Regions from separate parts of the Homo sapiens genome. Here all the other regions are reported to be linked to region 2. The links are microRNA targets in miRTarBase. Many come from high-throughput screens and were not tested one by one. Region 2 holds a microRNA gene; each other region holds the end of a gene's coding sequence.
What was found. The annotated mature microRNA hsa-miR-8072 reads GGCGGCGGGGAGGUAGGCAG and lies in region 2 at 1,028-1,047, shown strand. An mRNA with a match to its seed (bases 2 to 7 or 8) in the 3' UTR can be bound and repressed. Matches are read on the target gene's strand: a 7mer-m8 pairs with bases 2 to 8, a 7mer-A1 pairs with bases 2 to 7 and ends in A, and an 8mer does both.

Region 1: miRTarBase lists MTSS2 as a target of hsa-miR-8072. Seed matches in the 3' UTR shown: 7mer-m8 at 1,601-1,607.
Region 3: miRTarBase lists GREM2 as a target of hsa-miR-8072. Seed matches in the 3' UTR shown: 7mer-m8 at 3,358-3,364 and 7mer-m8 at 3,355-3,361.

What each region holds. Positions count from the first base shown.
Region 1 is chr16:70,660,037-70,664,103 of GRCh38, forward strand. It overlaps MTSS2 (MTSS I-BAR domain containing 2), which reads right to left. Exons shown (of 15, transcript NM_138383.3): 15 at 1,168-4,067. The coding sequence ends at 3,641. It overlaps IL34 (interleukin 34), which reads left to right. Exons shown (of 6, transcript NM_001393494.1): 6 at 1-646. The coding sequence ends at 151. Among named protein-coding and RNA genes, the nearest start is that of IL34, 16 kb to the left of the region's middle.
Region 2 is chr12:123,361,794-123,365,860 of GRCh38, reverse strand. MIR8072 (microRNA 8072) reads left to right here and starts at 1,018; the gene lies at 1,018-1,097. SBNO1 (strawberry notch homolog 1) reads left to right here and starts at 1,014. Exons shown (of 32, transcript NM_001167856.3): 1 at 1,014-1,160. SBNO1-AS1 (SBNO1 antisense RNA 1) reads right to left here and starts at 913. Exons shown (of 2, transcript NR_157806.1): 1 at 746-913; 2 at 57-336. RefSeq lists enhancers at 254-463, 1,924-1,973, 1,630-2,348 and silencers at 634-733, 864-1,103, 1,214-1,293, 1,334-1,443.
Region 3 is chr1:240,489,553-240,493,619 of GRCh38, forward strand. It overlaps GREM2 (gremlin 2, DAN family BMP antagonist), which reads right to left. Exons shown (of 2, transcript NM_022469.4): 2 at 21-3,924. The coding sequence starts at 3,923. The coding sequence ends at 3,417. Among named protein-coding and RNA genes, the nearest start is that of GREM2, 120 kb to the right of the region's middle. RefSeq lists a silencer at 3,663-3,834.

The DNA of each region.
Region 1 (4,067 bases), not on the chromosome of region 2:
GCCAAGTCCTCAGTCTTGCAGCCCAGAGCCCTCATTGCAGTATGCGGCCACCCAGCTGTACCCTCCGCCCCCGTGGTCCCCCAGCTCCCCGCCTCACTCCACGGGCTCGGTGAGGCCGGTCAGGGCACAGGGCGAGGGCCTCTTGCCCTGAGCACCCTGGATGGTGACTGCGGATAGGGGCAGCCAGACCAGCTCCCACAGGAGTTCAACTGGGTCTGAGACTTCAAGGGGTGGTGGTGGGAGCCCCCCTTGGGAGAGGACCCCTGGGAAGGGTGTTTTTCCTTTGAGGGGGATTCTGTGCCACAGCAGGGCTCAGCTTCCTGCCTTCCATAGCTGTCATGGCCTCACCTGGAGCGGAGGGGACCTGGGGACCTGAAGGTGGATGGGGACACAGCTCCTGGCTTCTCCTGGTGCTGCCCTCACTGTCCCCCCGCCTAAAGGGGGTACTGAGCCTCCTGTGGCCCGCAGCAGTGAGGGCACAGCTGTGGGTTGCAGGGGAGACAGCCAGCACGGCGTGGCCATTCTATGACCCCCCAGCCTGGCAGACTGGGGAGCTGGGGGCAGAGGGCGGTGCCAAGTGCCACATCTTGCCATAGTGGATGCTCTTCCAGTTTCTTTTTTCTATTAAACACCCCACTTCCTTTGGTTTGCTTTGCTTTGCATCTTCAGGGGTGAACCTGGCGGGGATGGGAGGTGGCCAAGTGCAGGAAGTGGAGGGGGGCAGGGCTGAGGATGCGGATTTGGAGTGGATGGAGCCTGCCCAAGGGATGTGGAATGAGAGGGATGCCAGGGATGGAGTTCCGGCCCAGCCCAGCCCAGCCCAGCCCAGCCCAGCCCAGCCCAGCCCAGCCCAGGGGCCTCTGCAAGCCTGGGTTGGGGGAGGCGGTGTTGGGCTGATACCTTGGCTTTGACCCTTGCCATCCTCCCTCCCTCCCTCCCTCTCTCCCTCCCTCCCTCTCTCCCTCCCTCCCTCCATCTGGCTGCCCCCAGGCAGCCCCTAGCAGGGACACATATGGGACATTTCAGAGACCCAGGTCTGGCCCTGGCACCTACATTGAGATCTGAGATCCTCTGGGAACCCCCAGCCTGTCCCCCTGCAGCTGGGATCTGGGGTGGGAAAGGTGAGGTGTGGGGATGGGGTAGGAAGCAGCCAGGCAGAGGCAGGGGTGTTAATTACAGTACACCTTTATTAATACTGGAATCTTCACAGTGCATCTGTTACTTGTAGCAGTGACTATATTTAAATCGGGGAGGATGGTGTGGAGGGGGCGGGGAGGAGAGGAGAATTTTTCCAAAATCTGACGGAAAGAAAAGAAACAAATGGTTCAGATGGGACGGAGGGTGGGGGAGGGGGGGAGGGTGAGTAGGAACCAGGAGGGCTGCCTGGGGTGGGGGAATAAATTAAAAAAAGGAACGAGTTAACAACAGCACCAGGAAAGTTACTTCAGTCAAAAGACGCTTTTGAAAAGAATATTTCTCCGTACAAAATGAGAAATTAAACGAACGTAAAGTCCCCCAAACCAAAGTTTGTGATGTGGGATGGTTGGCTCGGATCCCGAGGTGGGTGGGCCTATGAGGTGGTTGCTAAGTCGACGCAAGGGCGGCGGGGGTGGTCTCAGGGATGGACAAGGGGATGGAGTAGAGTATGTACAGCCCCCGGGGCTCACAGGGGAGGGGGACGGCGGAGTCGGTGGGGGCTGTGCCACACGAGCCCCCCTCTCTGGGTAGCCCCTGCCTCCTTTCCCATCAGGACCTCTGACGCCCAGGTCTGCCCACCCACTGCCCCTCACTCTATTCCCACCACATCCTGAATCCTGCTCCACCGCCCTGCCTCGGAAGACCCCTGCAGCCCTGGGGAGAATGTGTGGCGGAAATTCTACCCAAGACTCCCCAAATAATTGGTCACCTGCTCTCCTGGCCCCTAAAACCGGGGCTCTGGTGTTGGCCTGAGCTCCACGGGCTGAGTGCTCGGCCAGGCAGTTGTTGAACCTAGTGACTTACTTACAGGGACCATTCTTCATCAGCTCCCTCTGATGGGACTCTGTCCACATCAGGGCCTGCTTGGTGCCCGGACCTACCCAGGAGCTGCCCAGCTCACCGCACAAGAACTCCCAGGAGCTCAAGCCTGGGAGGCTCAGACCCAGCTCCATTCTATCAATCAATCAATCAATCATCAAGACCAAGGTGCTCCTGACCCCCAGGTAGGACCCTGCCCTGGGGCCACGATGCCCTCTGAGCCCTGCTTTCCCTCCTGACCTGCGGGGCCACCAGGACTCCCTCCGCTCGCCCTAGGCTCACGTGCTTTTACCTGCTGAGACTTGGCGTGACTTGGTGCGTGGGGTGGGGGCAGCCTTGCCCCTCCCCTTGCCCCCGCTGCCACCACGAGCCTGGACTACAGTGGGGGCCGTGCTGGGATGGCATCTCCTCCGGCAACAGAGAGTCAAAGCCAATCTTCCCAGACTCGCTCCCCCACCTGGGCTTGCAGCCAGCTCAGACCACAGCAGACAGGCCGGGAGCCTCCCAACCTTATTTTGGCTACGCTCGAGACACTGGAGAGAACAGTAGCTTCCACCGGGCTCTGGGGGAGCCAAGTCCCTCCCTTCTCATCCTGCCATAGGACCACCGGGGGGTCCCTGTCCCCCAGGCACTCCCAGACACACACCCTGTATCGTCCCCTCTCCCCCACACTTAGTCCTCGTCCACAGTCAGCTCCATTTTATTATATTCATAAAATGACCCCACACCTCCTACTGCTCCAGTCACCCCCCGAAAGGTGGCTAAAACTGTGACCCCCAAAGTTAAAAGATTGATGTACCCAATGAGAAGTGGACATCTGAAAACGGTGCCTGTGTGGCTGGCCGGTGACCCCAGGGCCTCCGGCCTCCTAACCCTGCTGCCCTAGTTTCCAAAGAGCTGCTCTGGCCCCCTCCAGCCAGCCTCACGGGGTGGGGGAGGCGAGGGGTGGGAGCCACCACAGGGCCCCCAAGACCCCCCCCCCCAAGCAGCCCCTGGTTTCCTCCCTGAGACTTGGCGTGGGCCCTGGAACTCCCTTCCCACACGGGGGGCCTGGCCGCCCAACTCCAACCTGCCGCCCTGGCCCCCAGCCCCCAGCAGACATCCAGCCCAGCGTGCACCTGGCCCCTCCACAGCCGCCCCGCCTCCTGGAGGGAGAGGGGCCTGGGAGAGGCAGAGAGAAGGCAAGAGGGGAGGAGGGGGCTCAGGCAGGGGAGAGGGGGGCCAGCATTCCAGGAGGAGCTGAGGCAGGACCAGCCCTGGGAGAGGCCGGGATGGTGAAAGGGAGGCCAGCCTGGCCCCTCTGTCATGGGCAGCGGCCCTGGCTCTGGTGCTTATGGGTAGGGAAGAGGCAGGGCCCCAGAGGAGGAAGAGGAGGGACCGAAGAGCATAAAACAGACCCCGAACCAGGCCCAGGCCTGCAGGCTCCGTCCTGGCCAGGCTTGCTAAGAAGTCACTTCCTGTTTAAATGCTGGAATCCAAGTGAGGTGTCTTTCCATAAAGTGGCATGGCCTCTGCCCTGGCTCTGTCCTCTCTCCTGGCTGGGCCTTTGCTCTGAGTGCCTGCGGCTCACAGACCAGGCCACCTGCTCGCACTGGGGCCTGAGAGGATGGGGAGGGTGGCGCCATCATAAGATGCGGGGCGCCGACCTGTCGTTGGTGACGGTCCTGCGGAGCCGGACCCCACGCCGGATGGCCACCAGCATGTCTTCGGCCGGGGGGTCGCTGGTGGCGGCTGGGGGTGGGGTGGGCGTCTCCTCCGTGGGGGTGGCCGACAGAGCAGTGGGGAAGGGGAACTGGCCCTCACCCAGTGCGTGGGCACCCGCCACCAGCTCCCCCAGCTTCTCCACCAGGCTGTGCCGGTTGGCCGCCAGCTGCTGCTGCTCGTCCTCGGCCCCTGCCCCGGGGTACCCGGCTGCCTCTGGGGATGGGCTGCCCCAGGCTGTGTTGGGCAGGCTGAGCCTCTTTGGGGAGGCCTTGGCGAGGTCCGGTGCCAGGGGTGAGGCGGTCTCGTCGGTATAGAAGACGCACTCCTCACTGCCCGCCCGTGTGGGC
Region 2 (4,067 bases):
AATCACCCAGGCGTGCTTATTACCCAAGCAACGGAGTCAAACAGCACTTTCAGAATGACTTTACAAAAGGGTTACCAACAAGGTAATATGTTTATTGTGTTAGGTCGCTTAATAATAACGAAAAGATGAAAACAAGGAAGTGAGAAGCGGTAGGGACAGCCCTACTCTTCAGTATTCATTAAGTGGGAGCCCCGGTGTGTCGGGCTTGCGTATGAGCGTGAAGACAGACGTGGGATGGCTGAGCTCACACGCCTTAGGCTCTGATTCTAGCCGTGGTCGCGCCGAGGGCTCCGGGTTACTTGCGGTTTCACTGCCAATAAAGTGCTTTGAGCGAGCCTAACAAGCAATGAATATGTAAACATTTTGTTTCTAGGACTAACTAGGTAATGAAGAGATCTTCCAAGTGACAGAAACGCTGCTAGGTAACTTCCTGGGCCGTAGCTCCCCACCCTAACAGGTTCTGAAAATAGCTCCAGGCCCTTCCTAACCGGAGTTTGAAAGCAGGCGCGGGGCGCATGCGCGCGGCCCTCCGGCCGACCTCCCGATAGCCCTGGCACGCGGACCTTCTTCCCGACAGGCCGCGGGGAAAAAAGGGCGGGGAAACGGAATTACCGCGAGCTCTCCGTGAGCGCCGGCGGAAACAGTAGTCACGTGACTCTCCTAGGTGGCCTTCGCCTTCCCCCTCCCCCTTCGCGGAAACCCGGCCCCCTCACCCCTCGCCCACCCCAGAGCCGCGGTAATGGACCGTTTGGGTTCCGGAATTCTCTTGGATCCAACAACTGGTACCGGGCCGAGGATAGCCGGCGGAGTCCGTTTTTGGCGGCGAAGACTGGGGGGTGGTCAAGATGGGGGGGAAATCATCTTCCTTCACCTAGGAGGGAGGCGGGGCGGAGAGGGGCGCAGAGAGGCGGGTGGGGGAGGAGGGAGGAAGTCACGTGAGGGCGCTGCGTGCGCGCGGCGCCTCATCCGTTGCCCCTCCCCCGCCCCTCCCGGCGGGGCGGGGGGGCTGGGGGAGGGGCGTCAAGATGGCGGCGGGGAGGTAGGCAGAGCAGGACGCCGCTGCTGCCGCCGCCACCGCCGCCTCCGCTCCAGTCGCCTCTGGTCCTTCAAACTCACACCTCCCGGGAGGAGCTGTGCTGGCGCCGGGTCCCGCGGGGAAAGTAAGTCCTTCCCTTGGCCCTTTTCTCCTTCCACACTCCCCCTCCCGGACAGCCTCCCACTCCCACCCTCGGGGGGCCGTGCGGGGCCAGGCTGGGGGGACAGCCACCTCGCCCCGGCTTGGGGCCTCCCTCGCCGCTTGCCGCTCCTCGCGGCCGCGCGCTCCGGGGCCCTCGGGGGCATGTTCCCGACGGCGGCTCCGTTGTACTCGCTTCCTCTGTTCGTCAGCGCCGGGCCCCGCTGTCGCCGCTCGTGGGGCTTTCGGGCTCCGGGAGCCCCGCTGTCCCGGGCCGGAGGCACCCCTCTTGGACCGCGGGGCAGGGTCTGTGCACGCCGGCTCCGCTGGGTTCGCCCCTTTGGCTTCCGCCTCACAACCCGGGGGCTGCGGGTCCGGGACCCGCGGGGAAAGTAAGGACCGGATCCTTCCCAAGTCCTCTTTCGTGCCCCAGCATTGCTCCCGGCTCTGGGCGAGGGAGGGAGGCAGGCGACGCGGTCGTCCTTCCTAAATCTGAACCCCACAGCGCGGTCTCGTACATGCCCCGCTCTTGGGGCGGTGGGGAAGCCGCGGGGGACACGTGCAGGCTCCCTTCACGCCTCTCCAGGCGACTCGCTTAGTTCTGCCTCGGCGGGCGAGCTCACCTCCCAGACCCTAAGAATTACCCATGGAGGGGAACGGCAGTTGGGGATTTGCTTACTTTGAGAGCGTTTGGCATAACGAGCATCCAGAGTTCCCCAAAGCAGTGGATACCGGTGGTTTCCCAGAAGTGGTTTGGGGTCGGTTTAACCGCTGAGGAGATTTGGATGTTCCTAAACCCTTCTGATTGTTTCTTTCCTGACCCTGGCATCCAGCTCCTCCCCTTCCCACCCCTGCTTTGTGCTTCTGTTTGGTTAATGTTTGCGGACCACTAACTTGATCCTCGCACAGAGAAGCTCTTTTTATGTGCGTGCTCGGTTTACTGTGGGAGGCTTTTGTTTTGGGGAGTCGCTGGTTGAGAAACGTGGGAAAAGAACGGGCCAGAAAATGAGAGACAAATAAAGCAACGTTTTTATCCATTGAATTGCGCAGCCAATTGTAAGTGCACCCGGAAGTTTGTACTGAACACGTGTTGAGGGAAGGTTATAAACTGGTCCCCTTTGACCTTTGAAAGTTGGCTATTATCATTTTATGTTGAGTTAAATGTTTCATATATTCTAGACAGCCAGAATTAGGGATGGAATATGGTTTCTAAAGAGTCATCCAGAAGGGTGCAGAGAACTGTCATCCGGAGTGCCCTAGCAGGAATTGACTTAACACTTTCAGATAATTCTGCGAGCTGACAGTACAGAGGGATTCTATTTTCCACCATATTTTCTAGCAATCAGAATTGATTTTCATAAGCGTAGGGAAAGCTATCATCGTTGCACAGAAGATAGCAGAATTTCCTACTGGTGACTTGAGTGGGACATTAATTTTGCAAGCAAGGGAACATTTTCTCTCATCTTTTAAAGAAGTTGTTTCCAAAATTTTTCCGATGGGAGACGACTTTACTTTTTTTCTCTGGCTTCTGCTTTTTATCTTCCATTCCAACTTATTCCATATAATTGCGTTTGGAATATTTATGCTATTTTTAAATTTTTGAGACAGGGTCCCACTCTGTTGCTCAAGCTGAAGTGCAGTGACGTGGTCATAGCTCACTGCAGCTTGAACTCCTGGGCTCAAGCGATCGTCCCACTTCAGCCTCCGGAGTAGCTGGGACTACAGATGTGCACCACTACAGCAGCTAATTTTTTTTTTTTTAATTTTTTTGTTGAGAGGCGGGGGTCTCACCATGTTGGGAGGCAGCTACTGGCCTCAAGCAATCTTCTGGCCTCCGCTTCCCGAAGTGGTGGGATTACAGGCATGAGCCATTGTGCCTGGCCCCTTCAGAATCTTTTTTTTTTTTTTTTTTTTTTTTGAGGCGGAGTCTTGCTGTGTTGCCCAGGCTGGAGTGTAGTGGTATGAACTCGGCTCACTGCAACCTCTGCCTTCAGGGTTCAAACAATTCTCCTGCCTCAGTCTCCCTAGTAGCTGGGATTGCAGGCATGTGCCACCACACCTGGCTAATTTTTTTTTATGTAGTTGGCAGAAAGGGGTTTCACCATGTCGGCCAGGCTGGTCTCACACTAGTGACCTCAAGTGATCCACTCACCTCTGTCTCCCGGAGTGCTGGAATTACAGCCGTGAGCCACCGCCCTTGGCCCCCCCGTCAGAATCCTTTTTTTTTTTTTTTTTTTTTTTTTTTTTTTTTGAGACGGAGTCTCGCTCAGTGGCCCAGGCTGGAGTGCAGTGGCACGATCTCTGCTCACTGCAAGCTCCGCCTCCCGGGTTCACGCCATTCTCCTGCCTCAGCCTCCCAAGTAGCTGGGATTACAGGTGCCCGCTGCCACGCCCGGCTAATTTTTTGTACTTTTAGTAGAGACGGGGTTTCACCATGTTAGCCAGGATAGTCTCGATCTCCTGACCTCGTGATCCGCTTGCCTCGGCCTCCCAAAGTGCTGGGATTGCAGGCGTGAGCCACCACGCCCAACAGAATCTTTTTTTTTTGAGGTGGAGTCTCGCTCTCTCGCCCAGGCTGGAGTGCGGTGTCATAACCTTGGCTCACTGCATTCCTCTGCCTCCTGGGTTAAAACGGTTATTCTGCCTCAGCCTCCCAAATAGCTGGGACTACAGGCGCGTGCCACCATGCCCGGCTAATTTTCGTATTTTTAGTAGACACGGGGTTTCACCATATTGGCCAGGCTGGTCTCAAACTCCTGACCTGGTGATCCGCCTGCCTCGGCCTCCCAAAGTGCTGGGATTACAGGCGTGAGCCACCGCGCCTGGCCTCAGAATCTTAAATAAATCTTCACTTTAGTTGCTGAAGGGGAGACACTGAGTTAGTGGCCTACTA
Region 3 (4,067 bases), not on the chromosome of region 2:
AACATGATGAATAAGACATCTTAGGCTGCTCTGCCTATGAAGTAGGCATTCTTTATTCCTTTACTTTCTTAATAAACTTGCTTTCACTTAAAAAATTTTCATTGCATTATTGATGACTTGGTCTTATTGTTATCATTCATGCAGACATTAATAATCAGTGGTGATAGGTCAATCATTAAATAAGCCTTCTGGGAATATATACATTCTAAGTTGTTCACACAATAGCAAAAGTCATTTTCATTGACTTTATAACTTAAAAATCATCTGGCCAATTTCAAAAACAAGTGAGTTAGAATACGTTAGCAGTGAAATATTCTGTCCCATTTAATAAACTAAGATGAATTATTTCCTAGGAAGTTGAGTTTAATTCCTTTGAAGCCTACACAGTGGATCAACCATGTGCAGTTTGATTGTGGATTTTATTTTTTATTGATTACGGAGTTTTCTTAAATGGCAGATTAAGTCAATTAATAGAAAAATGGAGATGCTATAAACTAAGAAATATTTAAATTAAGAAATGTTGGAACTCATGAGGAGTAAATGTGAAAATGAACAAAACTCAGAACAAGTGTGTCCCTGGTGCTAACGGAGAGACTAACAGTGGACTTCCATTGCTGCAGTTTCTCAAGGTTTCCTTGTTTAGTGTTTCTCCTTCAGCCAGCACAGTGAGAATACTCTGTCTTCAGCTGGCAGGGGATGTGGAAGAGGCTTGGAAGCTTCCAAAGACCAGGATTGAGGGCCACCTCCATCACTTCTGCTCCTTGGATGCCTGATTCTATTTCTCTTAGAAGATTCCAGACCCCAAAGGAGATCATGTGACATAAGCTAGAGGTTGAACTCACCATGGTTGAACAAAAACTCTCTGAACGCATAGTGCTGCTTCACAGCTCACTGCAACAAGTCAAAAATTCCACTTTTATGGCACGTCACACCGGGATCACATATAATCCTAGATTATCTTTATTTGTTCTATAATTTAATAGTATACCTATAAAATAATTACATTATACTTATAGCTTTTCTTCATTTATAAACAAAACAAAAAAATTAAATACAATTTGAGCCATTATAAGGTAAACTTTGTACATACGATAACCCCAGAAGGAGCTTCACACTGCAGCATATCATATTGCTTTCATTGCTACACCCACAATTGGGTTCGAAGAGAGTGTGCTCGTGTTTGCATTCTGTAAGTTCTTAGCTTAATCCCTCCCCTATCTGTGTGGGTTCCATGTTAATAAAATGATAGGGGTTGGCTCTGCAGCTGGTCAGAGACTCTCCTCCACTCACCTCCCAATCCACCCCTAGCCTCCATTACAATCACGTAAATTTCCTTCCTTCACAGCTTTTCTGCTGCATGTTCTGCCACTGAGTCTGACTTGAGGTTTTCCACCAAATGCAAAAATCACTCCTGACCTTGAACACCCTTCTCTCCATTTTCGCTCTATCCTCAGGTTCCAGCCCTCAAGGATTTCTTTTGATTTCTGCCTCCTGAGTTCAGGCTGTATATACCCATTTATGAAACCAAGACCCCCTCTGCCACAGCACATTCTTGCTCAGGTCTCATGGTGTTGCAGAAATGACAGAAATGCACCTTGCAGTGCAGTGGCCTGAGATAGATTCACCAACCCACCCCACCCCAATCCTTGCTCTTCAAGTGAATGTCTCTAGATCCACCATCACTACCTAGTATCAGGAAGCTAAGTCCCCACAGCGGCTTGCAGAGGGTCTCTCTCACATACTAGGGAAGTGGCCCCTCACAGGAGCACTTACCAGGGAATCATCAGTGAAAGGTTTTCAAAGTTTACTGATTCCCACCAATGGCAGCTCATTCACATTTGTCAGATTCCATAAGCATTACTCACAGGGAAGCCTTCCTGGGGCAACTGAGCAAAGGAGCCCAGAAGAAGTATATAATTTCGCTGGAAAATAAGTTACGTCTACTTCCGTATATCAAGAGACCACAGCATGGAAACGTCAACAATTCATTATAAACACAAAAGGTGACCTAATGTTTGTTCGTCCCTTTTGAAGTCTATTCTTTGAAAAGGAAGCATGTTTTGTGCAGAACAGTTCAACTAGATTACTATTCTATATCTTTTATTCCTTACTCCCTTCTATACCACAAAGCGACTCAACTCCTTATATTTTTCAATATCCCTCTCTTTTTCTCTTTCTTTTAACAGGAAATATTTTTTGCCTAGTGTCATGGCAGTGAAAGTAGTATACGGTTTCACCCCACATATGCATATTCCACATTATAGGGGCTTTCTAGTTTCCGGTCATCAATTTCCCAACGAATGCCCTTCCCTATACCTATCCATCCCAAGCCAATTTCTACATTGTGCTGCAATGCTTAGTAACGTCAGTGAAATAGTATTCAAAGTAAAAATCACGACTCCTCCCATCTCCCTGCCCAATCTAAAAATAGGTGCATGACAGTGAATTGCTGACCAGGCATTTTTTTTTCTGAGTAAGACACCTTCTGGGCCTGCTGTCATCCTTACTCCGAATGGTGCTGCAAGCCAGAGTCAAAACATGTGAAATAATACATGAATAGGTCTATAATACTTTTTAACAGCTCTTTACAATATACGGTCACTTATAAAACCAGCGTTAATATAGAGACCTTTGTGTGTGATAATATTCTAATTGCAGCAATAATAGCATGCACACCAGAGTTCATCTTTAGTCCACAAATAGGGGGCGGGGACAGTGAGGAAGAAGAGGCGGTGGGGACTTGAGGATGGGGGATTGTGTAGCCTGCTCTGCTCGAGGTTTCCCGGGAAGCCCACTTCGGGATCCAAGTGGCTCAAGTTGTCTTCTTGGTATCAGGTTTATTAGGAGACGCCCCGTCCACCGACATATTTATGGAGGTTGCACATATCCTCATCACAGCAGCGACCGAGGGCAGCCTGCCAGTCACAAGAATGAGCGCTCCCAGCCAGAGGTCCAGGGACCAGCAGGAGAGGTCTGAGGGGCCGCTCAGAAAAGTGACGCATCCTTCACTTCGCGCGGGAAAGGGGCGAGCTGGAGTGCAGGGCGGGGCCAGGGAAATCCTTGCTTTTCCACATGGTGGAAACATCAATGCCGGATTTACAGTGCATCACCTCGAAAGGTCCTCTCTGACTGCTGGGTGGCGGTGGTGGTTTTCCAGCATTTTCCTTCGGGCCTGATCCACCGCCTGGTTTAGGGGGCACAGGTGGGACCCGGGGTCGGTCAGGAACACATCAGCAAAAGCTCCACTTGCGATCCACGTCTGTGACAAGGACACCGTCAGCCCTAAGAGAAGTGCTTGCTGCTGAGGGGGAACACCAGGCAGCGTGACAGTGGGCTCGGAGGGCAGGGACAGAGGCGGCGGCGGCGCCACCCAGCGGCCGGGCGCGCGCGGGGCTGAGCTGCGTCCGGCCCGGCGCTCACTGCTTGTCCGAGTCGCTCAGGTTCACGGACATGCACCGGCACTGCTTCACCTTCTGGATTTTCTTGAGTCGGAAGGGTGGGTCCAGGCCGGGGCACTCGAGCTCCACGAGGACGGAGGTGACGCGCTGGGGCTTGCAGAAGGCGCAGGACTGGAAGGACTCCTCCTCCTTCTTCACGTGCCGCGGGATGTAGAAGGAGTTGCACTGGCCGTAGCAGAAGCGGTTGAGGATGGTGCGGCTCCGGCAGCCCTCCTCGCTCACCGTCTGCCGCAGCGGCTGCGTCTTGCACCAGTCACTCTTGAGGTACTTGCGCTCGGTGACCACCAGGGCCTCCTGGCTGGAGGCCAGCACCTCCTTGATCTGGTGCTGCCATCTCTCCGAGTTGTTGCTGCTGCCGTCCTTGTAAGGCGAGGGGATGGCGCCCGCCGGCCGGTTCTTCCGGGCTTCCGCCACCTTCACCAGCACCGCCACCAGGAACAAGGACAGGGAAAGCTTCCAGAACATCCTGCAAACGAGAAAAGAGAGGGGCTGGCTGTGAAGGGCCGTAGAGTACGGGATCAATCTTACTTATTTTTTTTTTTATTTTAGACATGGTCTGGCTCTGTTGCCCAGGCTGGAGTGCAGGGGCACGTAGCTTGCTGCAGGCTC